Linked DNA regions of Homo sapiens. The protein of the gene in region 7 purifies or fractionates together with the protein of the main gene of each other region. This does not show direct contact. Each region holds a gene or a part of one and is shown on either strand. Other genes may lie near its edges.

Region 1 (2,700 bases), on a different chromosome or scaffold from region 7:
AATATTAGCCAGGTTTGGTGGTACCCCCCTGTAGTCTCAGCTACTTGGGAGGCTGAGAGGGAAGATCACTTGAGCCTAGGAGTTCAAAGCTGTAGTTCTACCTTTAGAAAACGTATCCTAAGGTGACAGACGAGTATGCAAACACATATGTGAGGATATTAACTTTAGGGTTGTTTATAATGGTGAAAAATTAGAAATAACCAACATGGACATCGAGTACTGGTTAAATGTGTAGTGGCATATCCATACAAGAAAACATGTCATCAAAAATGTCCATGTAAGCCTGTACAAAATTGTGCACAACATGTTGAGGGGGGAAAAGCAATACACAAAATCAAATAATTCCAATTTTATAAATGAACATGTGGAAGACTGCTCACTAAAATATTAGATAAGGGTGACTGGTTTTTTTTCTCTTTAGATTTTTATATCTAGCTTTTATTATTTTTATAATAAATATTTCAAGCTATTTTCATTTTAGAAAACAAAAGCCACTAAAATCAAGTATTACTATCTTTATTATGGTATACAGCAGTATTTTATACATTAGCTCATTTTATAGTAAAAACATTTATGCACAACTGTAGAGAAACTGCTGCACAGATAGCTCCAACTTAAATTAGAAAATATTTTCTTTGTAGAAAATAGTAAAAATTATAACATTTACCAAGCTAACCCAACAAGTTCATTTAAACCAAAAAGTAGCTAAATACATTATACATTTATAAATACAGGTTGAATTCTGGGATCCAGGAGAAACTTTAGTCCTTTATTGAAATAGCCATGTTTTAAGTTATGTGAAGTGAAATTTCTATTAATCTTCTCTCTTACTCTTAATTTATGCCAGATTATTTTTCTTTAGGCTAAATCCATAATCCACAACAAGGTTTTAGCTGTTCTTTTCTAAAGGACGGGTACCATATCCTTTTAATCTGCTTGATAAGGTACCCATGCCTATCCAAATAATGAAATGGTTCAGTTATTATTAAAGCATGCCCAGTATTTGGGCAAAACCAGAATCTAATAAATTACACTGTCACCTAATACCCATGGCTTGATGGGAAGCCATGAGGAACAAGGGTAAAGTGATAAAACTGGCAAGTGGATCAAGGAATAAAAGCCAAGAGAATTCTGAGACCAGAGGGCAAGAAATATCTAGTCGGGATTCAAGGACAGAACTGAAGTTCAAATAGAAAAAGAATGTTGCCTCAAGGATTAGGAGCTGAGCTGGCTATCAGAGCTCCTAGTACATGGTGATCAAATAAGGGGCAGTTAGAGATAAAGACTGGATTAAGCAAGAGAAATCAGGACCAAGAAAGATTCTAGGTATTCACAATAATTAAATGAAAACAAGACAGACCATGCAGCTTTAAATTTCCTAGCATAGTAGTTCCAGGATTCTCAGTACAGAAATAATCTCTGGAAATTAAGGCGAGAAGATAATGCCACTCTTAAGCTCCTGTGCTATGTAGAATGTTTCCCAGAGAAATAATATCTGAGAAATCAGGCAGTTATCTGGCCAGGGGCTACATCAGGTTCTTCAGTTCCCTCAAAACAACTTAATCACATACAGTTTGTCTTAAAAGGAAGCCTCCAAGCAGCTAAAACAAACTTTCAACAGACATTCAGTTTAACAGATCCTATACTGTGGCTTTAGGAACTAGGCCACTGACTACCTAAAAACCCCAGCTTGCCCACTTGAAGTTAACCTCTAGAAACATTAGTGATCTGTGAAGTTTTCACCATTAAAACAATGCTTTATCATCCAAATCATACTTGTTCTTCTCTTTGCTTTCCAGTTATGAATTTGTTACCTTTTTGCATTTGATTATTTCCAGTGGTTTGGTTCTTTTTTTTTTTTTTTTTTTTTACATACTCTTGAGCAATGCTAATCTGCGCCCCCTACTCCCTTAAGTCCTTCTTGGTAAATAATGTTAATCTTCCAATAGGAAGAAGTGGAGTACATTACCATTTAAGCACCATTTATCCAGCCTACTTACAAATAAAGCTATGGAGCCACCTTATACATGTGAAATTCCTTAAAACCCTGGCTTTCTATTAAAATGTACTTTTATATATACTATCTATGAAGAATTCACTAAAGCATGAATCACCTTATAATGAGAAGCTAAAAATGTATCAAAACGAACATAAGTATAGGTAATCCACATCAAACATACTACATCTTCCAAGTCTAGAGCATACACTGGTATAAACTGTATTACAACCCAGATTAGTTTGAAATCTTGTTTCAAAACATTGCTCAGTATTAAGTCTCAGTAGACAAATAATAGGACCACATGAGAAACTGTTCGGCAGGTGGCTGAGGAAACCTTAACTTCCAAAGGCTCAAAGTGGTCCTCCAGAGACTGTTACACTCCCTTAGGTATTTATTTCAGGGAAGGACACTATTAAGGGACACTTTTGAGTATAAAGACAGGTGAACTCACAAAGTATAGGCAGATACATGCTTGATTTTATCTTCTAATCTACAGATAATACATTAGAATAAAAATGTAATGAATTCATACACCTTTCAAAAGGAAAAACTGATGAAGAAGTAACAATAAAGTTATAAATGATAATGATCAGATGAAATAATTTAAATGAAGCTTGTCTGTGTCTGAAAGAGACAGGGACTTGGCAAGTGGTCAAAAGGAGGCACAATGTGCTTTTAACTTTGCATGAAAAATAATGTTC
Region 2 (4,111 bases), on a different chromosome or scaffold from region 7:
TCTGTGAGAGTTTCCAATCATTAAATAGAGACAAGTTATGATTCTTCTTTTAACTCTTTGGTTCAAAACTTGTGACCAGCTTTCCTTTATTTGTGCCTCTATGTGGAAAAGGAGTTACTAAGCATCTTGCTTTGGCCTTTAATTGCTTAAGTAAGGAAATCATGAGAGCATGGGGACCAATCATGTTATCTGGAGATTTTCACCTCGAGGTCATTGGTTTGAATGCAGACGATGCTGGCAGAAACTGAAGGTTATAGAAGGGCAGCAGTTAGCTCACAGAAATAGAACTATGTTCTTACACTAGAGTCTAGCAGCCTGCAGTGACAGATACTGTCATATTTGGTACTAAATCTTTCAGGCTGGAAGCAGAACGGAACTAAAAAAACTGTTCTAGTAATTACTTCCTCTCTCTGACTCAGCTAGGCCATTCTTTGTGGGTTACTCTCAAGGGAATGAAAGGTGGAACCAAACAGACAAGTGTATATGTATTTCATTATGAATGTTAAATAAGTGGTTCAAGACACAACACAGACTTGATTTTACATTTACCATACTGATGAGATAAACTACTGAAAAGACAAAAAATATCACATATGCACACACAGGTAACAGAAAAAGTGCTGCTAAATAGTGTTTTGATGATTACATGCCTTCAGTTTCAATAATTTTCACTTTTTTTTTTTTTTTTTTTGAGACATGGTCTCACGCTATTGCCCAGGCTGGAGTACAGTGATGTGATCAGAGCTCACTGCAGCCTCAACCTCCCAGGCTCAAGTGATCCTCCCACCTCAGCCTCTGGAGTAGCTGGGACCAAGGGCACATGCCACCATGCCCGGCTAATTTTTAAATTCTTTGTAGGGACAAGGTCTCCCTATACTGCTCAGGTTGGTCTTGAACTCCTGGGCTCAAGCGATCCTCCCGCCTCAGCCTCCCGAAGTGCTGGGAATATAGCCGTGAGCCACTATGCCTGGCCAATAACCTTCACTTTCTTATACCGAATATTTAGTAAAAGAATTTGCTACTGAATGAGTATAGAGAACATTTTTATTTGAGATAGAGTCTCACTCTGTCACCCAAGCTGGAGTGCACTGGTGCAATCTCGACTCACTGCAACCTCCGCCTCCCAGGTTCAAGCAATTCTCCTGCCTCAGACTCCCGAGTAGCTGGGATTACAGGCACCCCACACAACGCCTAGCTAATTTTTTTGTATTTTGTTGGTAGAGACAGGGTTTCACCATGTTGGCCAGGCTGGTCTCAAACTCCTGACCTCAAGTGATCCACTTGCCTCAGTCTCCCAAAGTGCTGGGATTACAGGCATGAGCCACCGTGCCCGGCCAGGAGAGAAAACACTTAAAAAAAAAAAAAAAAAGCTGGAAGTTTGTGTACATACATATATTACTCATCCCCGCGCCCCCCACACCACTCTCCTTTCAGAAATAAATTCCGTAATATAATGTCAAGGCTTCCGTTGGATCTGATTGCTACAAAGCGGAAAGACCTCCTTTATGTTAGAAACATCAACTGTAAAAGATGGGGTGGGGGAAGCAGGAGGTACAGGAAGGGAAGAAATCCACTGAGCAGGAAATGAGGAGACTGGGATTCTGTTTTGCCATGGGCCTACCCCGCTTTACCTAGCTGGATGGTCTTGGGCAAGCCATGTCACCTTTCCAGGCTTCATTTACTCTATAAGGCTACAGGACTAGAGGACAGGTGAGGGAACCTGACCAGCTTTAAAATCCTATTACATTAACAGAAGACACGTATCAATTCAGCTCTGGAAAACAAACAGTATATAATATATCACAGCAACTGATTTTTCAAAAATCTAGTGACACAGAAAAAGCAGTTTAGTGTGGCAGAAATATCACTTGAGATAACAGCAAGAAGTGAAGGGTTCAAGTCGCAGTTACGGGCACAGATAAGTTACTCTCTGAACCTCAGCTATCTATAGAAAATGGGGATAATAATTCCTGCCTAATTCAAATCAAGAGGTTATAGGTAGATCAAATGAATATTTACTAAAGTGCTTAACTACATGTAAAATAGTATACAAATGAAGATGTTACTAATAACAAAGATCAGAACACTAAAAGATCACTGATACATGAAAAAACTCAAAGTTATATGAAACTTCCTAGAATACTATTTGAATTCATGAGACAAAAAACTCAATTACAGTAGTTGTATCTGGAGCTTATGTTATTGCCAAATATTCAACAGAATACTTAGTAGGGGTCTATTATGTGCAGGCAAGGTATTAAATGCTAGAAACGCAAAGATGTGGCATCAAAACCACATATGTGGCCTTGAGAAACTTGGTGGAAAGCAGAGGGGGAATAAGCACAAAAGCAAATAAATACAATGTGAAAAGTGACAAAATACAAAGGCCAGGCGCGGTGGCTCACGCCTGTAATCCCAGCACTTTGGGAGGCCAAAGTGGGCACATCACCTGAGGTCAGGAGTTCAAGACCAGCCTGGTCAACATGGTGAAACCCCGTCTCTACTAAAAATATTAAAAAATTAGCTGGGCGTGGTGGCAAGGCGCCTGTAATCCCAGTATTCAGGTGGCTGAGGCAGGACAATCACTTGACCTGGGAGGTGGAGGTTGCAGTGAACAGAGATCAAGCCATTGCACTTCAGCCTGGGCGACAAGAGCGAAAATCCATCTCAAAAAAAAAAAAAAAAAAAAGTGACAAAATACGGAGGTGTTTACATGTAAACAAAGGAAAAGGCTCATCCTAGGTGTCAAACTCAAACTGATCTTAGGTGTCAAAAGTAATGAAATCTAAGCTACATCTTAAAAACTTGCAAGATTTCACCAAGCAGATATTGAATACAAAGAAAAGTAACAGGAAAGAGCCTCTCTGTGCTCTCCCTAGGGGACAGCGCCCACTCTGTTGATGGTTCCTGGATGTACCCCCTCTAGCCATGACCTGCTTAGACATCTCCTGACTGACTTGTCTTAAATGAACTCTTGATTTGCCTCAAACCTGGTCTTACCAAAGTCTTTTGGCTCAACCTCCAAAATGTATGTCAATTGTTTTCATTTTTCTCCAACTCCGCTGTTGTCACCAAGGCCCATCACATCATGCCTCTACTAAGGTAAGAAGTCTCCAACTGTTCCCTCTGCTTCTGCTCTTGGTCCCTGCAATCCATTTTCCACAGAGCAGCCAGAGACATTTTATAAACACAAATCTGTCACTCCTATATAAAACCAATCAATGGCTCCACAATGCACTCAGAATAAAATCCAACCTCCACTGTGTGCTCCCAGGGCCCAACAGGATCTGGGTCCTGCAGGCCTCACCATCATCACTTTACTTGGCACATGGCCTTCTGTCAGTTCTGAACATGTCAATCTCTCGCCACCCACAAGTCCCGTGTATTTACAAAGAATAAACTACGAGCCCTGGGGTGGACTGGGGGTATAGGTTATATTTCAAAACAAACACACACAAAATATTTAATAGCTTACATGTTTAAGTATAACATCTCAGGAAAAAATGAAAACATATACATACAAAGAGACAAACAGTTACAAGAGACACATGACCATACACAGGCACATTTACAGGTCCTTGTCATCAACAGCAATTTTTGGCATCAATGATTTTACTAGATTTTTATTCCTGGCTAAGTAATTTTTCATATTTTCCCAATAATTTATTGGCTTCCTTTTTCTACAGCAAATAAATGCCCTCTGCCGCAACCTTAAGATAGAATGTCTACAACAGAACTCAGATGGCAAACGGTTGGTGAGACCAATGGGCTACTGATGCACTATACATATGAGATAATCAGCAATGGTAGCCTAATGAATTCTGCAACAACAGTCTGCATCATTAATTAAATAGAAACCAGGAAGACATCAGCAGAAGGAAAGTCAAGTACAAGGAAGCAAGAACTAGGGAAAAGGTGGCATGTCTACAACTGTGCTGTCCCATATGGTAGCCACTAGCCACATGTGACTTAAAATGTAGACGAATTAAAATGAAGTAAAATTAAAAATCAGTTTCTCACCCACACTAGTCACAACTCAAGTGCTCAAAAGCCACATTTGGCTAGTAGCTATCACACAAGACAGCAGAGATATAGAAAACAGGTATTGGTT
Region 3 (4,111 bases), about 12 Mb from region 7:
CCTCCCGAGTAGCTGGGACTACAGGTGCCTGCCACCACACCTGGCTAATTTTTTGTATTTTTAGTAGAGACAGGGTTTCACCGTGTTAGCCAGGATGGTCTCAATCTCCTGACCTCGTGATCCACCTGCCTCAGCCTCCCAAAGTGCTGGGATTACAGGCATGAGCCACTGCGCCCGGCCACCTCAACATATCTTGAGGTCAACTGTTAGTAAGGTTGAATTAGCAAGATAGTACTAACAAAAAAGTTCTTAAATGACTGCAGAACCTAATTTTGACAACAATGTATGTCCACTGAAGATTTTAATGTCTTTTAATATCTCATCTTCATTTATGGTGGATATTGATCATATTCTAAATATTCTATTCTAAAAATTACAGCATTTTAGACAAATACAAGTAGCAAATGATCTCCACTGTTTGTATATTATGTGAGGTCTAGAAACTGACACATAATCTTGCATGTTTATGAATGGAATCTACTGAGTCACAAGCTCTACCAACTAATTTATTGAGTGTCTATGGCAGACTGTTCGCAAAGATGGCCTCAGCAATTTCTTCAGGGCTCTTACTTTTGCAGTGTAAATTTGCTCCTTCTCCCTTCAAGAGGTGGCTTCTGTTTCTCCAGCCCTGGAATCTTGAATCTAGGCTGGCCCATGACTTACTTTGATCAATGGAATGAAGGTAAAATAACCTATGTGTCTTTCAAGACTAGGCCTTAAGATTTATGCAGCTTCCATACTCACTCCCTTGGAACATTTCTACTACATTTGAGGAATCTGGGGTAGTTTGTTTGAGGGTGAGTGACTACAAGGAGAGAGAAGCCCAGCCAATAGCCAGCTCCGACCACATGGCCAAATCCTCAGAAAACTGTTCTTTTCACCTCAGGAAAACACTGAATATGCCATAAAATTGTGTAGTTTTTTTAAAATAAATATTGTGTTATAATAAAATAATATGCATATAATCACTCTAAATTCTACCGATACAGCTTCAAATGTTAATAAATACTTGTTCTAATTATTAGACATTTTGAAAACTTATCAAAAAGAAAATAAAGCCTTACCCAACTCAACACATCCAGAAATTCCCAGGATAGCTGCTGAACTATGATACAGAGGAAGGGTTATATAAACAATGTCATGAGCAGTACAACCAAAAGCCCACAGGACAGCAGAACCCCTTAAAACCTGCAGCTGACTAATCACAGCTGCTTTTGGTAGACCTGGAAGAAAAGAAAAGAACAGGAAATATATATACACACATACATACATATACATATGCATACATATTCATATAACTAGAAAGGAAGTAACAGAAAGAAGATGATACTGATAACAACTACACTAGCAATTGACAGAAAATATATCAAAGTAGTCTATCTGCTTTGTAAAAGAGGCCATTCTGACTTTAGCAACGCTCCTTTGACAGGCTGCTAAGTAGGCCTGTATCTCAAACGCTATGTAATTTTATCGTTGGCCTTTCTGGATAGATCTAAGATTCTAGAAATTAATTACAGTGGTAGCACACATTTGGTTTCAGTAGCTATCTGATAAAGAGCATTTGGGAGGTAAGTTTTTGTCAGTCCTTATGTGCCTGAAAATGTCTTTTTTTGCCACCTATACACTTGAATGGCTGCTTGTAAAGAATTCTAGGTAAGTAGTCATTTTTACGCAGGACTTTGAAGGCATTGCTCTATAATCTTCTGACTTCCAGTATATATATTGAGCAATTATCAGTCTTTCTGATTTCTTATCCTTTGGATGCAACATGGTATTTCTATTTTTTTTCATTTTTGGAATCTTCTATTTGTTTTCAGTAGTCTGTAATATCATGATGACTTTTACTGGGACCAGTCTCATCTATCCATTTCGCTGGGAAATTTTTAGGCTTTTTCAGTCTAACAACTCAGGTCTTATAGTTCTAGATATTTTTGAATTTGAAAACAAAATAATTTTCACACCCCATTCTTCTCTTTCCTTCCTTATTTCTGTTCTTTTTGCCCATTGCTTTTTTCTGTTACATTTATTTGTGTGTTCATCCTTTCATTTTTAGAACTCTTGATTTTCTGAAGATCAGCCCTCCTGGACAGAATCACTGGTTTCCTAATGTTGCCTATCCTGTTTTCCTTCTCTTACCTTTTGCTTTACTTTTTGAGAGATTTTCCAACAATTATGTTCTCTGAATATTCCTCTTTTTGTAGTATGTTATTTTTATATTATTGACACTTTTTTGTCCCCATCTTTCAGAATATTAACAATAATAATTTTTTGAAAATTTCTCCTCTCTATCTTGTCAGTTTTCTCCAACATCCTTTTTATCTTTCGTTTGTATTGGTCTCAATCTAATCTAGAATATATTCAGGAGGATTTTTTTCAAATATCTGGAGACTACTGACTATCAGTTTATATTTAAAAGTGCAGACACAAAAACACAAAATAAACAAACAAAATATTAACTAGAATCTCTGTGTCTGAAGAATACTTATTTACTAGTTGGTTTCACTGTCCAGGACATTCTGTTGGGGGAATCCATCATGATCAGTGTCTTTCAATTTTTACATGTGGGCTATTCAGATTCCTCAGACAAGAATCTCAAAGATTAAAACAGTCAAGTATTAAAAGAAGTTATATATATTAAAGAGAACATATACATATATGTATATCTATCTATATACATATATACATATTTATAGGGAGGGAGACTTTCTTTTATATCCCCTACTTTTTAAACCTCTGTTCTTCCTGGTATTTTCAGAAGTTCATCTTTTCCAGAATTACGTCTCAGGACTTCTATCAGGGTGGAAGAAGCAATCCAGGACTATAGTTCCTTCTTAAACAAACTTCCCATAAAGTTTCCTGCTTATAGTTTCACATTTATTTTCTACTCTTTGAGGTACCTGGTACCCAATTTCTGAGCCTTTCTGGGGTTTGGTGGGGGCAAATGAATTTTCTTCAAGGCTTCACCATAAGCTTCAGCTTCTTGGGTCTGCGGTGTCTGCCACCACACTCAGTCATCACCTCCTTTTCTAAAATTTTGTAGCTGTCATCTCTAGTTCCATTCCTTTTGTCCTAAGGGACTGTGTATCTGTTCAATCTGCCAACTTCTAGACCTGTTATTATTCAATAGACCTGATTAGGTAGCCTGAACAATCTGAGAAAGAAGCTCCCTCAGTCTGGACAGAGTAGCCACACACATATTAGCACTTTTCAGTTCATTTATCAAAACTGTTCTAATCATGTAAAAAAAAATTATATTCTCCAGTCTAAAAGGGATTACAATTAGGAACTGAATAGATTTTTAAAATGTAAGAAAAATTTTACTATGCAATAGTTGCTCACAACCTATGCACAAGAAATGAGTAACAATACTCTTAATATGTCTAAGTCAAATCAACAATCATTTTCAAACTAATAATGAAAGCCTATTTAGGCTACCATTAATACCATTCAGTTTTTCCTAGAAATCAATTAAGTTTAACATTTCTTTTGAATTCTCTTTCTTTTCTTTCTTAAGACTGAGTCTCACTCTGTTGCCCAGGCTGGAGTGCAGAGGTGCAATCAGCTCACTATAACCCCGAACTTCTGGGATAGAATGATTCAACTGCCTCAGCCTCCTGAGTAGCTGGTACTACAGGTGCATGCCACCACATCTGGCTATTTTTTTTAATTTTTTTGTACATATGAGGTCTCACTGTGTTGCCTAGGCTGGTCTCAAACACTTGGCCTCAAGTAATCCTCCTGCCTTGGCCTCCAAAGTGTGTGATTACAGGTGTGAGTAGTCACTGTGCCAGGCCCTTCTTTTGAATTCTCAGGCAGTTTTATTATTGTTATTGCTGTTGTTTACTTAAAATAAAGCTTATTTACTTGATTTTATTTTGTATCTTAGTCCAAACCTGCAGTGCCTTCAAGAGTTCCTGTTTGTCACATGATTCAATTACCCTGACCAAAATCAGGAGAGCCAGCAACAGGTGCTTAAATTGCCGGTATACCTGGATTATGTTTAGGATTTAATAATTTACACAGGAATATAGAGAACTGTTTTCAAGTACATTAAAACACTTTTTAAATCCAAAAGAATCAGTAGAAACTATTTAAACTAATTTCTTCATTT
Region 4 (4,648 bases), on a different chromosome or scaffold from region 7:
GTTCGTCGCGTAACAGGCCCCTACTACCTACCCCGCCTTGTCCGTCCCCCCACCCACCCCGGGGCAAGAGGGCTGCTGTGTCCAGACGATGGCGCTCCCGGCCAGTGCAACCCCTCTCCCCTACTGTGGCAAGAAGACTAGTCTGGAACAAGTTTCAAGGTGTTTACTGAGATTTTGAAAGGCTTCTCGACAGGAGCCGTAACTTTTAGTAGCCGGCAGAAATCCATTCCCGTGACCAAGGTTATTGAGGGAACGAGTGTCCGAATCACGCCCCTTTAGTTTTGCCCGAATATTCGAATTTTCCGTGGTCCCCGCGGAGCGAGATCCTGGGCGCACCGCAGGGGAACTGTGACGCACGGGGACAGAGATCCGCGGTGTGGAGGGCGAGGGGGGAGGCCTGAGAGGGATGGGGTCGAAACGAGAACCCCAGAAGGGCATGGGAAAGGAGAAAGACCGAGAGGAATCCTGACTGAGGCAGGGATCGCCGGTCAGCCAGAGGCTTCTTGGTTTAGCCGCGTGACACCTCCGCACCTTTCCCGCGGCTGCGGCGCAGCTCCTTCAGCCTTCCTGACTGCCCCGTGCCGCTCAGTAGAGAATGCCGAGCATCCCGAGAGGGAGAGGCGTCAGAGCCTCTCGTCCTGAGTTTCCTTGAGAAGCGGGGACCCAAGAGAAGAGCTTTATTGCCTGTTTTACTTTTTCCCAAAGCGTCCCTTGGCTTCCGCCGCCTGGCTGCCGGCAGCTGGAAAGGAGACGAGCTCCCGCTCCCGTTCGCCCCCAAACTGAGGACCGAGTGGCCACCAATGCCTTCCCTAGGTCCCAGGGTGCAGACCCGCTCCCCACTTCCAGAGTCGGGCGCAGGGTACATCTCTTTATGGAGAGTGCAAGACCTGGACCGGACTGAGCGGCTACTCGCAGCTGCCGCTAAGGGAGCCAAGAGGCTCCTGGCGAGAAAGGGAGCGGGGTTAAGTTCCCTAGGGATTAGGGACCCAGATTGGGGGTGGGAGCTCCCAGCAGTAGTCCCCTGTTCCCCGCGGGACACAGAAGGCTCTAGACAGGCAAGGGCATGGGGCGTGGGATGGACCTCACAAGGATACTTGCAGAGGCAAGCATCTAGCGTTCAAGGGGCCACCGGCTATCCCCTATACCCTGCTGGGGGCTGTGGACTGGCTTGGTCTAGCACTGGATCCTATGAAAGACTCTGTGCTCCGGCTCTGCAATCTACATCTCTTTGCCAGGTGTTTGCACTGGAGGAGAGAGGGAGAAGAACTTGCTAGAAACGAATGCACAGGGGCTGGTGGAGGGGGTGTGGGGTGGACTCCGAGCTAGTCATGATGCTTGCAAGGTACCTGGGAGATTGAGAGGCAGGGCAGGCTGGCTAGAGAGGAAGTACATACAAGGCAGTCGGAAGCAAGATGACACCTCAATGTGGATTTGTCCAATAAGAGGGGGTAGCCAAGGGGGGGGTATTCAGGGAGGTCTGATTGGTCGGGGGGAGGGATTTGGGGTGGGGCTAGCCGCCTCTTGAGGCTTTAAAAGCTCATCGGAGAGGGGCGGGATGCTGTCATTTGCTCTCTGACTCTCAGAGAGGGAGGCACGCTTTCCTGGAGCTCCTGGTGACAGAACAGGTGTTTGCTGTCTGGACCTGGCTGCTGATCCTGAGCCTGCTGGGAGATCTTAACGATCCCCAGGAGCAACATGGGGCCCACCCTAGCGGTTCCCACCCCCTATGGCTGTATTGGCTGTAAGCTACCCCAGCCAGAATACCCACCGGCTCTAATCATCTTTATGTTCTGCGCGATGGTTATCACCATCGTTGTAGACCTAATCGGCAACTCCATGGTCATTTTGGCTGTGACGAAGAACAAGAAGCTCCGGAATTCTGGTAAGCCACCCCTTCTTCTCCCTACCCAGTGTGCAGAGACTTGCAACCCCTAGGGCGTTAGTTTTTGAGCTCCCCGAATAGAGAATCTATGGACAGTGCCCTCATATTGAACATCCCTGCTCCCAAATTCCCCGCAAGCCTGGGGGTGGTAGTATTCTGTCCCGGCCCTCTAAACGTGGAGGTTCTCAAGGCCGAGAGAGCACAGAGAATTAGCTTTGGGCATCCAAGTACAAAGCGTTCCCGTGGTGCGCGGCAGCCCGAGGATCCCTGTCCCGTCGGGGCCTGATGCGGAGGGAGCCGGCACCCGAGCGGGAGAGTCAGGCGATTCGCCCGGGGACAGCAAGCCGAGCCGGACGCCGCAAGGGCGGCCGCGCTGAGGCAGCGCGGACCGAACTGACGCGGAGGGAGCAGCGGGGCTGCGACCTGCTCTGTGAAAGTTAAGTTCGCGGCGGCCGCGGCGGCCCTTACCAGAGCGCAACGCAGTGGCCTCTCCCTAGCCGGGCCAAGAGCCCGCTCGCCGCGGCCCTGGGGCTCCAGGACGGCTCCCGGGCAGATCCCGGGCGGCGGAGCACAGACCCCCGCGCCCGAGAATCGAGCAGGGAGGTCTGAGCCCGCCGGAGCCGAGCTCCGTCCGCCCGTCCCAGGGCGAACGGCAGAGAGAGGCAAGCGGCGGGTCGGGCACAGCAGGCGGTGGCAGCGACGGCGGCGGCAGCGGAGATCCCAAGGTCCGTAAGCGGGGAACTGGGGGGTCGCAGGGCGGGCCGGCCAAGAGGCTTGGGAGCTGGGCGTTGCTGGGGGTGGAGGGATAGAAGGCAGCAAAACCGAGTAGGGATTGGCGGGAGGGCGACGGGAGAGCTCAGAGGCGGCGATGGGGGACTCAGAGAGGCTGCAAAGGGCTGGGGTCTGGGAGCCGCAGGCGGGACTTCCCCCGCTGCTAGCCACTGCCGAGCGGGAGGAGGCCGGGGGCCGGGGGCCGGCGGCGAGCAGGGCAGGAGGGAAGCGTGGGAGGATGCCGGGCGCTGCGACCTGTGCTGGGGGTGGGGGCGGCAGACACTGCAGAGCAGCTAGTCCGGCTTACAGGTTGGGCGGGAGAGGGCTCTGGAAGGGAGGGGAAGGGGCAAAGGCGCCCAAACTCCGAGTTCAGGCCGGGGGAGGGAGGGGCGGCGCCTGGAATTTCCACCGCCAGATTCTCGATCGGCTGGGGCTAGGAGTGGGGACCGAAGGGGGTCTGAGAGGGTGGGGAGACCAGCTGGATTCTCCCGGGCAGGGCGTGGGGGAGAGGTGGCGGCCGGGGTCTGGGGGATTACTTTGCTTGGGCAAGGAGTCACGAACACTGAACAAGTTTAAAAACGCACTGACTGGCACACAGTCATTAAAAGTTTTCTTACAAAGTCTGGTGGGTGTCTCCGATTTCTCCTTCGTCTCCTGGAATCGTGGGGCCATACACTAGGTCTTCACCTTCACCCCCGCGGTGCGGTCCCGAGGTGCAAACCCACGGAATCCTGGGGGCGACCTGCGAAGCCCATTTTATTCCCTTTAGATTTCTTTTCTTTCTTTTTCTCCTTCTCCTTCCTTCCTTCTATAATTCAAATAAAGGCTTTTATGGTTGTTGTGGTTTTGTTTTTAAGGCTTTGCCCCTTCTCTTTTCGGCTGTATTTCCCTGAATTCATTACTCTGCCGGAAAACCATAGAAAGAACCTCTTCGGTAGAAAGTGCTGAGGCCGAGTGCTGACAGCGCTGGAGGAAGGAGGAAGAAGGAGCCATACCTTTGCCCTTTTCAAAAGCGCTCATTTTCTCCTAGTCCAAGATGAAGTGCAATATTTTGCCAAACCAATGCTAATTAGCAACGAGGTGTCTCCAAAGAAAGAGGGCTCTGCGCCTGCACCTGGCCTCTTCCTTCTCTTTTTTGTGAAAGGTTTTACAAAAAAGTTCCCACCTCAGCCCTACAAGACCGGAGTGGGGGTGACCCTTCTTCTCTATCCTGTTTAACCTGAAGGCTCCAGTAAAGTTCAGTGCCCGGCGCTGGGAGCTCTGTGCAGGGCGCTGAATGTGCCAGTGCGCGGCTCTGCGCGTGGACGTGGACGCGGCATGTAACTGAAACAGGCACTTCTGCTAATCCTTGCAGGATTTTTTCTCCTCCCCCCCACCCCCGCCCACCTCGCGCCACCCTTCCCGCCCGCCCTCTCACTACTTCTTTGGTCTCAGACTAAATTTTACAGGGCTTCCCTGCTTCCCCTCAGTTTTCACTCTTAGGTTACCTCGGAACGGTAAGTATTTGACTTGGCAAGGTTTTAGGTTACTGCTTGATCCCATCGGAAAAGACTGTTTAAGAAGATGGCCTCTAATGCCTTTTCTCAGAATCTTCTCTCTAGTAATGTGTTTATTATAAATGCAATGCTAGGCTATAGGAGGGAGATGGCTAATTTATCTTTTTCTAATTATTTAATTATTTTTAATTTTTTTAGTTTGAGGCTTCCTGACATCCCTCCAGTGTCTCTCCTTGCCCCCCACTCTCCAGCCTCCTTCCTAAAAACAAGTCCCTCTAGCTCACCTCTACTCCCCTCCTCCTTCTCCCTCCCCCTCACCTCCAGTGAAGGAAACGTTTGCATTTTGTTTTTCTCTAAGATGGTGGCAGCATGACCCTGTCTCATTGTGAAGGCTCCTGGCAGGGATTTTGTGCTCACTGCTGTCTGTCTTATGTTCGCTTCTTTCTCAGAGCATTTCTTTAAAAGAATTCTGGAATTATAAAAGGTCATAATCCAGCTG
Region 5 (4,111 bases), on a different chromosome or scaffold from region 7:
TGTTGAAATAAATGAAGTAGTAAATTGCAGTAACTTTAAAAAACTTTACTGAATTTTACAAAATTTCTACAAATAAGTATTATTTTATATACTTAAAAATAAGAATGAGAATATGCGAAAATGCTTTTGAAGAAAGGTACTATCTAATATAGGTATTGAGATAAAAGTTGTTTGCTCTTTGAGGTACATGCCTTAATTTTATTAATATATGCTATCAACTTATTGATTCAGTACTTTCAAATTGTGATAGAAAATCTTAGCTGTCCCTAACTAGGATTCTAGCCAACTAAAAAATTCTAACTTTGCCTCCTAACTCTAGCAGTTCTTTGTTCGTTCTCTTTGACTTTGGCTTTGAGGATTCCTCTAGATAATTATGTTCTCTAGATAAAAATGTTCTTAGACTGTCCCATGAAATCCCTCTTCAGTGTCTCAGGGGTTGCTGTAGGAGGGCTTAGAAGGGAAAATGGATCAGGCAAGCCTAACAGTCTAGGCTTGAGTTTTCCTCGTCTTCTTTTAATTAGACTGACTCATTTTCCTATGTGTTTTAAATATTAAGATACTATGTAAAATATCATGAGGAAAGGAAAATAAAGCGTTCTGCTATTAAAAAGAACTGAAAGCCAATGAAAATGTCATTTGTAGATGCTTCTGCTTGCACTTAGAGTCTGCAGATGGTATACTGGGAAGAAGTAGGAACGTTCGGAAAATACCTCGGCTCTTGACTGGGTTTGGTATTCTTTTCTCTGCCTTCACTGTAGCTCTTCTATCCTGGTATTCAAGGTTCCAACCATGGTTGCTTTAATCTGCCTTTCTCTCCTCCTTTAACATATGTTTATTTAGCAATTAACTGGGGGGAGGGAGGGAGTGGGTAGAAAAAAGTATTTTCCAACATTTTAAAATGAAAGAAATAATTGTTTATGGTTTGAAAAGTCACCAAGACTATTATTGAGTGATTATTTGTGACATGTTTACCTAGAGAAATTATTTGGGGAAAAGAAAGCTTTATATTTCTTTCTTGGTGGGAAGCAAGCAGCTGGAATAATTTGTTATAAAAGACCTGGGGACGAGGTATGAAAACATGAAAGAACTAGCGGATAGCTTATAATATAGTTTTAGGAAGGATATATAGAAAGAAGGAGTGTCCAGATGAGGAGAACTCACTTCTGGAGTGTCTATAGAGTATTGGAGGGAAATAGATAATTGCTTCAGTATTACATACTTTTGGATGATACATTTGATTCTGCAAGACAGACATAGGTCAGCTGGAGAGGAGAGAATTTGTCCCTGTTTGGTAGGTGCTTGTGGTCTGATTGGTGAAGTTAAACTCTAGAATGTCAAGGAGCTAGTTTGGTAACACAGTCAAGGTTGAAATTGTAGTTCCTTGTCCTGCTGTCCACCTTTGGGGAGCAGGGATTTGTTCTTGCAACAGTGTATTTAAAGTATTATCCTTTTAAAAAAGGAAGATATATTGTGTATTTCTGGATTTCTTAGAGAGTTCCTGATTGAGGGAGAATCTTATTTGAGAAGAACTATTGTTTTCTTTGCTTATTCCTTGCATATACTTTGTTAATAATATCACCTGAACGTGTCCAAATGACCACTGCTTTCCCTACCTCTTCTATTCCTCTTTATGCCTTTGAATCTTTCTTCTTTCATCCATTTGCTTCCCTAAATTCTGCTGCTTGCTGGCTCCATACCAGTCAGTCTCAGGCCTGCTGTGTTAACCCTTTGCCACACACAAACTTTATATGCAAGGACAAAACACAGGTGTTCAGCATAAACCACATTGTTTGTATAAACAGTTTAGGCACAGTGAGCCACTCTAGTTATTTAGGGAAAGTTTATATCACTGTAGGGAACTGTTTACTAGTCATGGTTCCCAGATGTAAGCCTTGTAAGCAGGCCTTCCTAAGAGTAGCTATGTTGAACACCTGCATTCTTTTTGGGAGTCTAGAATTTTGGTACTGCTAGAAAGAAGGTGCCCATGTGGCCAGCCCCCAATAAAAACCCTGGGCATCAAGTCTCTAATGAGCTTTCCTGGATGAGTAGCACTTCACATGTGTTGTCACAACTCATTGCTAGAGAATTTATATGGGTTCTGAATAGATTCTTAAATCTATTTTTATATTCTTTTTTTGGTTTTGTTTTTGAGATGGAGTTTCACTCTTGTTGCCCAGGCTGTAGTGCAATGGTGCTACCTCAGCTCACCACAACCTCCGCCTCCTAAGTTCAAGCGATTCTCCTGCCTCAGCCTCCCAAGTAGCTGGAATTACAGGTGTCCACCACCATGCCTGGCTAATTTTTGTATTTTTAGTAGGGATGAGATTTCATCATGTTGGCCAGGCTGGTCTTGAACTCCTGACCTCAGGTGTTCCGCCCGCCTCGGCCTCCCAAAGTGCTGGGATTACAGGTGTGAGCCACCACGCCTGGCCAAGAAAAGTTTTAATATGACTCCCAGGTTTCTGATGTGGGCAGCTAACTGAGTGGGCCATGAACTAAGGTCAGGACTATAGGAGGGAAGAACACAGAGATGTCCAGTAGGGAGTTGAATAATGTGTCTATAATTTAGCAGTGAGCTCTATGGAGAGAAATTATAGTCTTCATCATGTAGGAGATAATGGAGGCCATAGCTGCATCTTAGATCACTGACAGAAAGTGTGGAGGGAGAAAAGAGGATCCCAGGATGGAGTCTTGTGGGGAAAGCAGACAGTGAAGGGGTAGATGGAGGAGACAGCAGGAGCCCTTTATGTTCTGTGATACTGGAGGTTATCACCATTTGAGTTAACCATAGTTTTCTCTTTCAGGAATGGTAGTGCTATTGGCCTTCCAGTCCCACCTATCACAGCCTTAATCACCCCAGGTCCTGTTCGTCATTGCCAAATTCCTGACTTGCCTGTGGATGGGAGCCTACTCTTTGAATTCCTTTTTTTCATCTACCTGTTGGTTGCTCTTTTCATTCAGTACATCAACATTTATAAAACAGTGTGGTGGTATCCTTACAATCATCCTGCTTCTTGTACATCACTGGTAAGTCTTACTCAGACTTTAAGTTCTTCATGTTACTTACCCAAGAAACTACCTGGAAAGCCTTTCTGTAGAAATTGTTTTTCTTAATAATTTTTCTTTTAATAAAATGTTTTTCTGCTAGGCCACAGATTACTTTCAGAAATAAAATTTCATGATAAGATGGTTAAATTATAAGTACTACCAGAGGAAGTAAAAATATAAATGAAAATGCAGAAAACATTTAAATAATTTTTTATAATAATATCACGGAAAGGTTTTGGTATTTAGTTTTCTCTACACCATTTTAAATTTGTAAGTATAAGGTGTCAGTGTTACTACATTCTAACAACTCTACCCTTTTAATGGCTGAATTAGGATAGTGGTAGCTTCTGTAACAAATAAACTCTGAGGCAGTTGTCCTGGTTGCCAGGAGTTCTTCAGGGGACCCAGGCTGATGGAGATTCTACTGTCTTCCAACATGTGACCTCCAAGGTGGCTGTGGCCCATCCCTGTCAGCCAGAAGGGGAAAGAGCTTAGGGCAATGTAAAGGACAGTTTCTTATGGGCCAGGCTTACATCATTTCCACACATGTCCACTCCTAATTACAAGAGAAGCTAAATATAGTCCTTTAGCTGGGTACATAGTGAACTTAAATCAAATTGGGAAATTGGGAAGTGAAATTGAGAAATTGGCTGTCTTTGCTGAAGTACATAAAAATATATTGTAGGTTTCTTCTGTTCTCTTTCCATTTATTAAGAGTACCATGATAGGCCGGGCGCGGTGGCTCACGCCTGTAATCCCAGCACTTTGGGAGGCTAATGCGGGCGGATCACGAAGTTAAGAGATCGAGACCATCCTGGCTAACACGGTGAAACCCTGTCTCCATTAAAAATATAAAAAATTAACCGTGTGTGATGGCAGGCGCCTGTAGTCCCAGCTACTTGGGAGGCTGAGGCCGGAGAATGGCATGAACCCGGGAGGTGGAGCTTGCAGTGAGCCGAAATCGAGCCGCTGCACTCCAGCCTGGGCGACAGAGCGAGACTCTGTCTCAAAAAAAAAAAAAAAGAGTACCATGATAGTCTTGATGCAGAGAAGGTTCACCATA
Region 6 (4,845 bases), on a different chromosome or scaffold from region 7:
AGCTGCAGGGACCTCTGCCCTTGAACACAGAGTATTGTCCAAGGTTTCTCCCCGTGGGATAGTCTGAAATATGGCCTCGTGGGATGAGAAAGACCTGACCGTCCCCCAGCCCAACACCCGTAAAGGGTCTGTGCTGAGGTGGATTGGTAAAAGAGGAAAGCCTCTTGCAGTTGAGAGAGAGGAAGGCCACTGTCTCCTGCCTGACCCTGGGAACTGAATGTCTCGGTATAAAACCTGATTGTACATTTGTTCAATTCTGAGACAGGAGAAAAGCCGCCCTATGGCGGGAGGCGAGACATGTTTACAGCAATGCTGCCTTGTTATTCTTTACTCCGCTGAGATGTTTGGGTGGAGAGAAACATCAATCTGGCCTACGTGCACGTCCAGGCATAGTACCTTCCCTTGAACTTAATTATGTCATAGATTCTTTTGCTCACATGGTTTTTGCTGACCTCATTATCACCCTGCTCTCCTACTACATTCCTTTTTGCTGAAATAATGAAGATAATAATCAGTAAAAACTGAGGGAACTCAGAGGCCGGTGCCGGTGCAGGTCCTTGGTATGCTGAGCGCCGGTCCCCTGGGCCCACTGTTGTTTCTCTATACTTTGTGTCTTATTTCTTTTCTCAGTCTCTCGTCCCACCCAACTAGAAATACCCACAGGTGTGGAGGGGCAGGCCACCCCTTCACAGGCGTGGTGGTGCACACCTGTAATCTCAGCTACTCAGGGGGCTGAGGCACGAGAATTGCTTGAACCTGGAAGGCGGAGGTTGCAGTGAGTCGAAATGGTGCCAGCCTGGGCAACAGAGCGAGACTCTGTCTCAAAAAAATTTAAATTTAAATTTAAAATGCCCGCTGCACGAGATTCCCAAGGCTGCTGTACGCATTACCACAGACTTAGTGGCTTAAAACCACATAAGTGCATCCTCCTCCAGTTCGGCAGGTCAAGAGTCCAAAACATGTCTCACTGGAATAAATCAAGGTATTGGTAGAGTCAGGTTCCTTCTGGAGGCTCTAGGGAAGAATCCACTTCCAGCTCCTACAGACCGCCACATTCCTCCACTCTTGGCCCCGCCTCCATCTTCAACCTGCATCCTCACTGGAACCTCTCCTTTATTTATTTATTTATTTACTTATTTATTTTTGAGACAGAGTCTCGCTCTGTCGCCCAGGCTGGAGTGCAGTGGCTCAATCTCAGCTCACTGTAACCTTCGCCTCACAGGTTCAAGCGATTCTCCTGCCTTAGCCTCCTGAGTGGCTGGGATTACAGGCACATGCCACCACACCTGGCTAATTTCTTTTGTATTTTTAGTAGAGACAGAGTTTTACCACGTTGGTCAGGCTGGTCTCGAACTCCTGACCTTGTGATCCGCCTGCCTTGGCCTCCCAAAGTGCTGCGATTACAGGCGTGAGCCACCACACCCAACAACCTCTCCTTCTATCTTCCATCTCCCCTCTGACTGAGCCTCCTGCTCCCTCTTATAAGGACCCTATAAGACTACAAGGCAGGACCGGCACAGTGCCTCACACCTGTAATCCCAGCACTTTGGGAGGCCAAGACAGGAGGATCACTTGAGGTCAGGAGTTCGAGACCAGCCATGGCCAACATGCTGACACCCCATCTCTACTAAAAATACAAAAATTAGCAGGGCTTGGTGGTGCACGCCTGTAGAGTCAGCTACTCGGGAGGCTGAAGTGGGAGGACCACCTGAGCCCAGGGAGGGTGAGGCTGCAGTGAGCTGTGACAGCATGACTGCACTCCAGCCTGGGTGACAGAGAGACCCTGTCTCCAAAAAAAAAAAAAGACTACATGATAATCATAAGATCCTTCACTTGGCCGGGCACGGTGGCTCACGCCTGTAACCCCAGCACTTTGGGAGGCCAAGGTGGCCAGATCCCCTTTGGTCGGGAGCTCAAGACCAGCCTGACCAACATGGAGAAACCTCGTCTCTACTAAAAATACAAAATTAGACAGGCGTGGTGGCACATGCCTGTAATCCCAGCTACTCAGGAGGCTGAGGCCGGACAATCGCTTGAACCCGGGAGGTGGAGGTTGTGGTGAGCCGAGGTCGTGCCATTGCACTCCAGCCTGGGCAACAACAGCGAAACTCTGTCTCAAAAAAAAAAAAGATGCTTCACTTAACACATCAGCGAGAACCTCTGACACGTGAGGTAATGTCGTCACACCTTCCGAGGATTAGGACGTGGACCCCTCTACGGAGTCACGACTCTGCCCACCACACCCATGTCCCACAGAGGCTAACGCTGGCAACAAGATAGTGTCCAGCAACAGGAGGCTGAGCAGGTAAACAGCACTGCACCCACAGGAGAGAAGGGCACCATGCAATACAGTGGCCACCAGCCACAGAGGCTAATTTTTAAGAAAGTTTAAATTAAGTAGGCTGGGCGAGGTGGCTCACGTCTGTAATCCCAGCACTTTGGAGGCCGAGGCAGGCGGATCACCTGAGGGCAGGTGTTTGAGACCAGCCTGGCCAACATGGCAAAACCCCGTCTCTGCGAAAAATACAAAAATTAGCCGGGCGTGGTGGCGCACGTGTGATCTCAGCTCCTGGGGACGCCAAGGTGGGAGGATCACCTGAGCCCAGGAGGTCAAGGCTGCAGTGAGCCAAGATCGCGCCACTGCACTCCAGCCTGGGCGACAGAGCCAGATTCTGCCTTTAAAAATAAACGAACAAATAAATAATACAAAACAACAAAATAAAGAGTTTAAAAGTCTGGAAGGAAAGCAACATTTACAAGGGCCCAGGCTCGCCCTTCCCTCCGAGTGACCTTGGGCCGGTGACCTGGCCGGCCAGAGCGCAGGTTTGCCCCACTCCGGGCGGGCACTGCGGGTCGGGAGCTACGGGGCCTGGACCCGGGTGCGAGGGGCGGGGGTCTCCGCCGCCTTCCCGGCCCCTGCGCTGGGGGCCCGCCTTGACCGCGCACGCGGGGCTAGAATGTACTCACTTGAGCAGCACGGCGGCGCCTGCTACCGTGCCCAGCGCCGACAGCGGCAGCAGGTAGCGGCTCATGCCGGGCCGGGGACAGGCGTCAGGCGTCAGGGGTCGGCGCGGAGCTTGCTGCACACCAGCCGCCTGGGTAGCTCCGAGGAAGAGCGCGCGACGCAGCCACAGGCGAGCGGAGGCGCAGGCGCGGCTGGGCCCGCGTCCGGAACTGGGCTGCGAGGGGCGGGGCGCGGGCGGAGGGGGCGGGGATCCTAGGGACGGGACCTATGAGCATCGGTCCTGAGCGCTGTCACAGCTGGGATTGGTGGTTTCAGGAGCCTGTGGGCGTGGCTAGTCCGGGGGCGGGGCCTATGGTTTGTTCGAATGACGTCACACTTGCCGCAGCGTATAAGGCGCTACGCAGTTCTGGAGTGAAATAGGTTCGAATCCCACCACTGTCAATTCCAGACTGTGACCCTCTGTGTGTCTTTCAACTATATCAGCCTATTCCCTCATCTGGAAATGTGTGTTTACCTTCTTCATAGACTTTTGGAGATAATTTGAGAATTTCCATGCACAGAAACAAGGATCTAGTAGCCTGTGGGTACCCAAGCTCCTGGGGTCCTGCAGGAGAAGGCGGCTGGGGGCCTGGACTCCTGGGTCTGAGGGAGGAGGGGCTGGGGGCCTGGACTCCTGGGTCCAAGGGAGGAGGGGCTGGGAGCATGGACTTCTGGGTCCGAGGGAGGAGGGCCGGGTGCCTGGACTGCTGAGTCTGAGGGAGGAGGGGCTGGGGGCCTGATTCATTCCCAAATTATCAGAATCTCATCCCCATGTCTGGCCCTGCACAGAGATATCTTCCCTGAACTCTGCCTGAACTACCTTTCTTAGATTGAGTATTGCACACACTCCTGCACTTACCTGTCCATGTTTGTCACCCCCACCAAACCGGGATGCACCTCTGGGCACCTGCTTCCCCTTGCACTGCTCACAGCGAGTGTATCTGATCACCACCTCCTACCCCTGACTGTGCCTGAGGTGCCAGGAGCAGACACCGCTGGAAACAGGGAAGAATTCAACCCAATCTAACTAGGAGTAAGTTTTCTTCCTCATCAGATGAACTGTCATCTTCTTATATGAGCCCTGCCATAATGGAGATTATACAGGCAGGAAGAGCTATTTTAAGACCTTAGTCAATGGCCGGGCACGGTGGCTCACGCCTGTAATCCCAGCACTTTGGGAGGCCGAGACAGATGGATCACGAGGTCAGGAGATTGATACCAGCCTGGCCAACATGGTGAAACCCTGTCTCTACTAAAAATACAAAAATTAGCTGGATGTGGTGGCACTCACCTGTAGTCCCAGCTACTCAGGAGGCCGAAGCAGGAGCATCACTTGAACTCGGGAGGTGGAGGTTGCAGTGAGCCGAGATTGCCCTACTGCATTCCAGCCTGGCGACAGAGTGAAATTCTGTCAAAAAAAAAAAAACCTTAGGCCTGTAGACCTTAAGCTCTCACCATCTCAAACGTATTAAACCAGTTACACAATGCCAAATGCTGTATAAGAGGCACTTGGAGGAGTCAAATTCATAGAGACAGAAAACAGAGTGGTGGCTGCAGGGGGCTGGAGATGAGATTGGGAAGTCACAGGATTTGTTTTTGTTTGTTTGTTTGTTTTGTTTTGTTTTTTGAGAGACAGTCTCACTGTGTCACCCAGGCTGGAGAGCAGTGGGCGATCTCAGCTCACTGCAACCTCTGCCTCCTAGGTTCAAGCGATTCTCCTGCCTCAGCCTCCCGAGTAGCTGGGGCTACAGGCACGTGTCACCACACCCGGCTAATTTTTGTATTTTTAGTAGAGACGGGGTTTCACCATGTTGGCCAGGTTGGTCTCAAACTCCTGACCT
Region 7 (4,111 bases):
TAAATCACGACTTTTGAAAGAAGGTTGAACGGGAAGACAAACTCAGAAGCTCCTGCAGTAATCAAGGACAGAAGCAATTGTTAAATGCACCTCTTAGGCTGTTATCAGTAGAAATACGAAATAAAAGATAAATATGCAAAAACATTAATGGCACAATAAACACTCACGGTTTTGCCTTTAGACTTGAGATACACTAAAATCTAGATTTAATTAATCGACTTGGACGTTGGAATAAGATAGTAAAACTCACAACAAAACTTTGTAGAACTTAGTCAGGAAAAGAATCTCAAGCATAGCTTTAAAAACAGAAATTGCCCCGAGTACTAAGGATGAGCAATAATGAAATTAAAACATATTGTAATAACATTACACAAACTATATTGGAGACTACAAAGAAGAGATTATTCATAGATTATAAAGCTTGGAAAGAATCAAAACAACACATTTCTGGAAACAGATTGTATAAATGCTACAAAAGAGAAAAATATATTTTCTCCCCACGCAACACAAGACCTTAAAGTCAATTCTCGCTTTTCTTGCAATATTTTATACCTTTTCAATTCATAGAATTACTCAAGAAAACTACCTCAGTTGGTTGCTACTTTTTGTTGATTCCTTTTACCAGACATGACTAAGTTTCTTTTTCATCAGTAGATTTCTGGGCTCCTATATTCACTAGAGATTGCAACTCCTGGATTTCTCTTACACTAGAATCCTATTTCGAGCCATATGGGAGATTCTGAATTCCAGAACAAAAGAATTTTGTAATTTAAAATTCGTGATTGCTCAATGGAATCATTTTAATTGTTACTTCATTTCTGTCGTTATTTAAAACTTAAGTGGAGAGTTTTCTCAGGGATAAGAAAACCACAATCAAGGTCATACAAAACTTTTAGAGGCAGTCAGTCTGCTAAGAAGGCTCCAGCAAGAGAAACGGGATCTTCTGTTTCAACAATCATTACTTAAGAAAAAATTAAGAAAATGAAATAAGTTTTGCAGAATAACTGTGAAATTTTTATTCATGAAATATGTACTTACACTTTGGGCCACGTGATGTCACTCTTTGCCGCGATGTTCTCTCTGAATCCAGACAAATACAGCCCTTTTCCCATGGGAAAGAGGCTCAATTCTTTTTCACTCTCTCTGTGCTGAACGATGGCGAACACAGCAGAATGGGACTGACGAAATCAGATGATTTCTTCTAATTTGGAGGCAATTTTCACTAATTAGAAGAAGACTGAGTATTTGAAATGTTATACTCAAGTCGAGGAGATCCAGAGGGTCAGCCTCTACTGCTCTCGCTTCTGATCCTCGCAATGTGGGTGGTGGGGAGCGGCCAGCTCCACTACTCCGTCCCGGAGGAAGCCGAACACGGCACCTTCGTGGGCCGCATCGCGCAGGACCTGGGGCTGGAGCTGGCGGAGCTGGTGCCGCGCCTGTTCCAGTTGGATTCCAAAGGCCGCGGGGACCTTCTGGAGGTAAATCTGCAGAATGGCATTTTGTTTGTGAATTCTCGGATCGACCGCGAGGAGCTGTGCGGGCGGAGCGCGGAGTGCAGCATCCACCTGGAGGTGATCGTAGACAGGCCGCTGCAGGTTTTCCATGTGGACGTGGAGGTGAAGGACATTAACGACAACCCTCCAGTGTTCCCAGCGACACAAAAGAATCTGTTCATCGCGGAATCCAGGCCGCTTGACTCTCGGTTTCCACTAGAGGGCGCGTCCGATGCAGATATCGGGGAGAACGCCCTGCTCACTTACAGACTGAGCCCCAATGAGTATTTCTTCCTGGACGTGCCAACCAGCAACCAGCAGGTAAAACCTCTTGGACTTGTATTACGGAAACTTTTAGACAGAGAAGAAACTCCGGAGCTTCATTTATTGCTCACGGCCACCGATGGAGGCAAACCCGAGCTGACTGGCACCGTTCAATTACTCATCACGGTACTGGACAACAATGACAATGCCCCAGTGTTCGACAGAACCCTGTATACGGTGAAATTACCAGAAAACGTTTCTATCGGAACGCTGGTGATTCACCCCAATGCCTCAGATTTAGACGAAGGCTTGAATGGGGATATTATTTACTCCTTCTCCAGTGATGTTTCTCCAGATATAAAATCCAAGTTCCACATGGACCCCTTAAGTGGGGCAATCACAGTGATAGGACATATGGATTTTGAAGAAAGTAGAGCACACAAGATCCCAGTCGAGGCTGTCGATAAAGGCTTCCCACCCCTGGCTGGTCATTGTACACTTCTTGTGGAAGTTGTGGATGTAAATGACAATGCTCCACAGTTGACTATCAAAACGCTCTCGGTTCCTGTAAAAGAGGACGCACAACTGGGGACAGTTATTGCCCTGATTAGTGTGATCGACCTAGACGCAGATGCCAACGGGCAGGTTACCTGCTCCCTGACGCCCCACGTCCCCTTCAAGCTGGTGTCCACCTACAAGAATTACTACTCGTTGGTGCTGGACAGAGCTCTGGACCGCGAGAGTGTGTCCGCCTACGAGCTGGTGGTTACCGCGCGGGACGGGGGCTCGCCTTCACTGTGGGCCACGGCCAGGGTGTCTGTGGAGGTGGCCGACGTGAACGACAACGCACCAGCGTTCGCGCAGTCCGAGTACACGGTGTTCGTGAAGGAGAACAACCCGCCGGGCTGCCACATCTTCACGGTGTCTGCGCGGGACGCTGACGCGCAGGAGAACGCCCTGGTGTCCTACTCGCTGGTGGAGCGGCGGTTGGGCGAGCGCTCGCTGTCGAGCTACGTGTCAGTGCACGCGGAGAGCGGCAAGGTGTACGCGCTGCAGCCGTTGGACCACGAGGAGCTGGAGCTGCTACAGTTCCAGGTGAGCGCGCGCGACGCGGGCGTGCCGCCTCTGGGCAGCAACGTGACGCTGCAGGTGTTCGTGCTGGACGAGAACGACAATGCGCCGGCGCTGCTGACACCTCGGATGAGGGGCACTGACGGCGCAGTGAGCGAGATGGTGCTGCGGTCGGTGGGCGCCGGCGTAGTGGTGGGGAAGGTGCGCGCAGTGGACGCCGACTCGGGCTACAACGCGTGGCTTTCATACGAGCTGCAGCCAGAAACGGCCAGCGCGAGCATCCCGTTCCGCGTGGGGCTGTACACGGGCGAGATCAGCACAACGCGTGCCCTGGACGAAACGGACGCACCGCGCCAGCGCCTACTGGTGCTGGTGAAAGACCACGGGGAGCCAGCGCTGACGGCCACGGCCACTGTGCTGGTGTCGCTGGTGGAGAGCGGCCAGGCGCCAAAGTCATCGTCGCGGGCGTCAGTGGGTGCCACGGGCCCCGAGGTGACGCTGGTGGATGTCAACGTGTACCTGATCATCGCCATCTGCGCGGTGTCTAGCCTGTTGGTTCTCACGCTGCTGCTGTACACTGTGCTGCGGTGCTCGGCGATGCCCACCGAGGGCGAGTGCGCGCCTGGCAAGCCGACGCTGGTGTGTTCTAGCGCGGTGGGGAGTTGGTCGTACTCGCAGCAGAGGAGGCAGAGGGTGTGCTCTGGCGAGGGTAAGCAGAAGACCGACCTCATGGCCTTCAGCCCGGGCCTTTCTCCTTGTGCTGGATCTACAGAGCGAACGGGAGAACCCTCTGCTTCCTCAGATTCAACTGGGAAGGTGGGTTTTTCTAGCATTTTATTTATTTATATAATTTTTTTTCTTGAAAGATATTATCGATTACTCCCAGGGGCCGTTCAAATAGTTTTATTCATTTTTCTAGAAATCCAGCAGATTTTTTTTCTGATAAAGTAAACCCCTTAACATTGGAGCCGACTTTGTCTTGACTTCTAGTGAGAATTATAAACTGTATATTAAATAGATATTTTTTGGGTGCTGAATCAATTTTATTTAAATTTGTGATTAAAGTGACATTGAATTTCTGATGCTATGCTGCCATAACACTTGAAAACCAATTTAGTTGTTAGTCATTCATTAAACATTAACATCACTATCATTTATTTATTGCTAAATGATGCATAGTATTTTAGTCTACTTGTATTGTTTATAAGAAACCCAAGCAAAAATATATAGCAATTGTTACCTTGTTAAGTTTGTAGTTCTCTACATTTCTCTGGATGGAGACT

Evidence for each region.
Region 1: the proteins of PCDHA8 (region 7) and DDX21 purify together in Homo sapiens (co-immunoprecipitation; one large-scale study listed by IntAct). This does not show direct contact.
Region 2: the proteins of PCDHA8 (region 7) and BMPR1A purify together in Homo sapiens (affinity purification with mass spectrometry; one large-scale study listed by BioGRID and IntAct). This does not show direct contact.
Region 3: the proteins of PCDHA8 (region 7) and SLC27A6 purify together in Homo sapiens (affinity purification with mass spectrometry; one large-scale study listed by BioGRID and IntAct). This does not show direct contact.
Region 4: the proteins of PCDHA8 (region 7) and GPR50 purify together in Homo sapiens (affinity purification with mass spectrometry; one large-scale study listed by BioGRID and IntAct). This does not show direct contact.
Region 5: the proteins of PCDHA8 (region 7) and TMEM39A purify together in Homo sapiens (affinity purification with mass spectrometry; one large-scale study listed by BioGRID and IntAct). This does not show direct contact.
Region 6: the proteins of PCDHA8 (region 7) and RDH13 purify together in Homo sapiens (affinity purification with mass spectrometry; one large-scale study listed by BioGRID and IntAct). This does not show direct contact.

Annotation. Positions count from the first base shown.
Region 1 is NC_000010.11:68,982,869-68,985,568, reverse strand, and holds the end of DDX21 (nucleolar RNA helicase 2), read right to left. Parts: 3' UTR 501-2,700; downstream 1-500.
Region 2 is NC_000010.11:86,885,407-86,889,517, reverse strand, and holds part of BMPR1A (bone morphogenetic protein receptor type-1A isoform 3 precursor), read right to left. Parts: intron 1-4,111. UniProt on the Homo sapiens protein: On ligand binding, forms a receptor complex consisting of two type II and two type I transmembrane serine/threonine kinases.
Region 3 is NC_000005.10:128,985,712-128,989,822, reverse strand, and holds part of SLC27A6 (long-chain fatty acid transport protein 6), read right to left. Parts: intron 1,224-4,111; coding exon 1,065-1,223; intron 1-1,064. UniProt on the Homo sapiens protein: Mediates the import of long-chain fatty acids (LCFA) into the cell by facilitating their transport at the plasma membrane.
Region 4 is NC_000023.11:151,175,027-151,179,674, forward strand, and holds the start of GPR50 (melatonin-related receptor), read left to right. Parts: upstream 1-1,557; 5' UTR 1,558-1,695; coding exon 1,696-1,882; intron 1,883-2,350; exon of another isoform or gene 2,351-2,810; intron 2,811-4,648. UniProt on the Homo sapiens protein: G protein-coupled receptor that plays a role in numerous physiological processes including regulation of energy metabolism, neurite outgrowth or cell migration.
Region 5 is NC_000003.12:119,456,934-119,461,044, reverse strand, and holds part of TMEM39A (transmembrane protein 39A), read left to right. Parts: intron 1-2,804; coding exon 2,805-3,027; intron 3,028-4,111. UniProt on the Homo sapiens protein: Regulates autophagy by controlling the spatial distribution and levels of the intracellular phosphatidylinositol 4-phosphate (PtdIns(4)P) pools.
Region 6 is NC_000019.10:55,060,001-55,064,845, forward strand, and holds the start of RDH13 (retinol dehydrogenase 13 isoform 1 precursor), read right to left. Parts: upstream 3,149-4,845; 5' UTR 3,033-3,148; coding exon 2,968-3,032; intron 1-2,967. UniProt on the Homo sapiens protein: Retinol dehydrogenase with a clear preference for NADP. Oxidizes all-trans-retinol, but seems to reduce all-trans-retinal with much higher efficiency. Has no activity toward steroids.
Region 7 is NC_000005.10:140,847,246-140,851,356, forward strand, and holds part of PCDHA8 (protocadherin alpha-8 isoform 1 precursor), read left to right. Parts: intron 1-1,136; exon of another isoform or gene 1,137-1,250; coding exon of another isoform or gene 1,251-3,779; exon of another isoform or gene 3,780-4,111. Other genes in the region: PCDHA9 (protocadherin alpha-9 isoform 1 precursor), read left to right, coding at 1,251-3,644.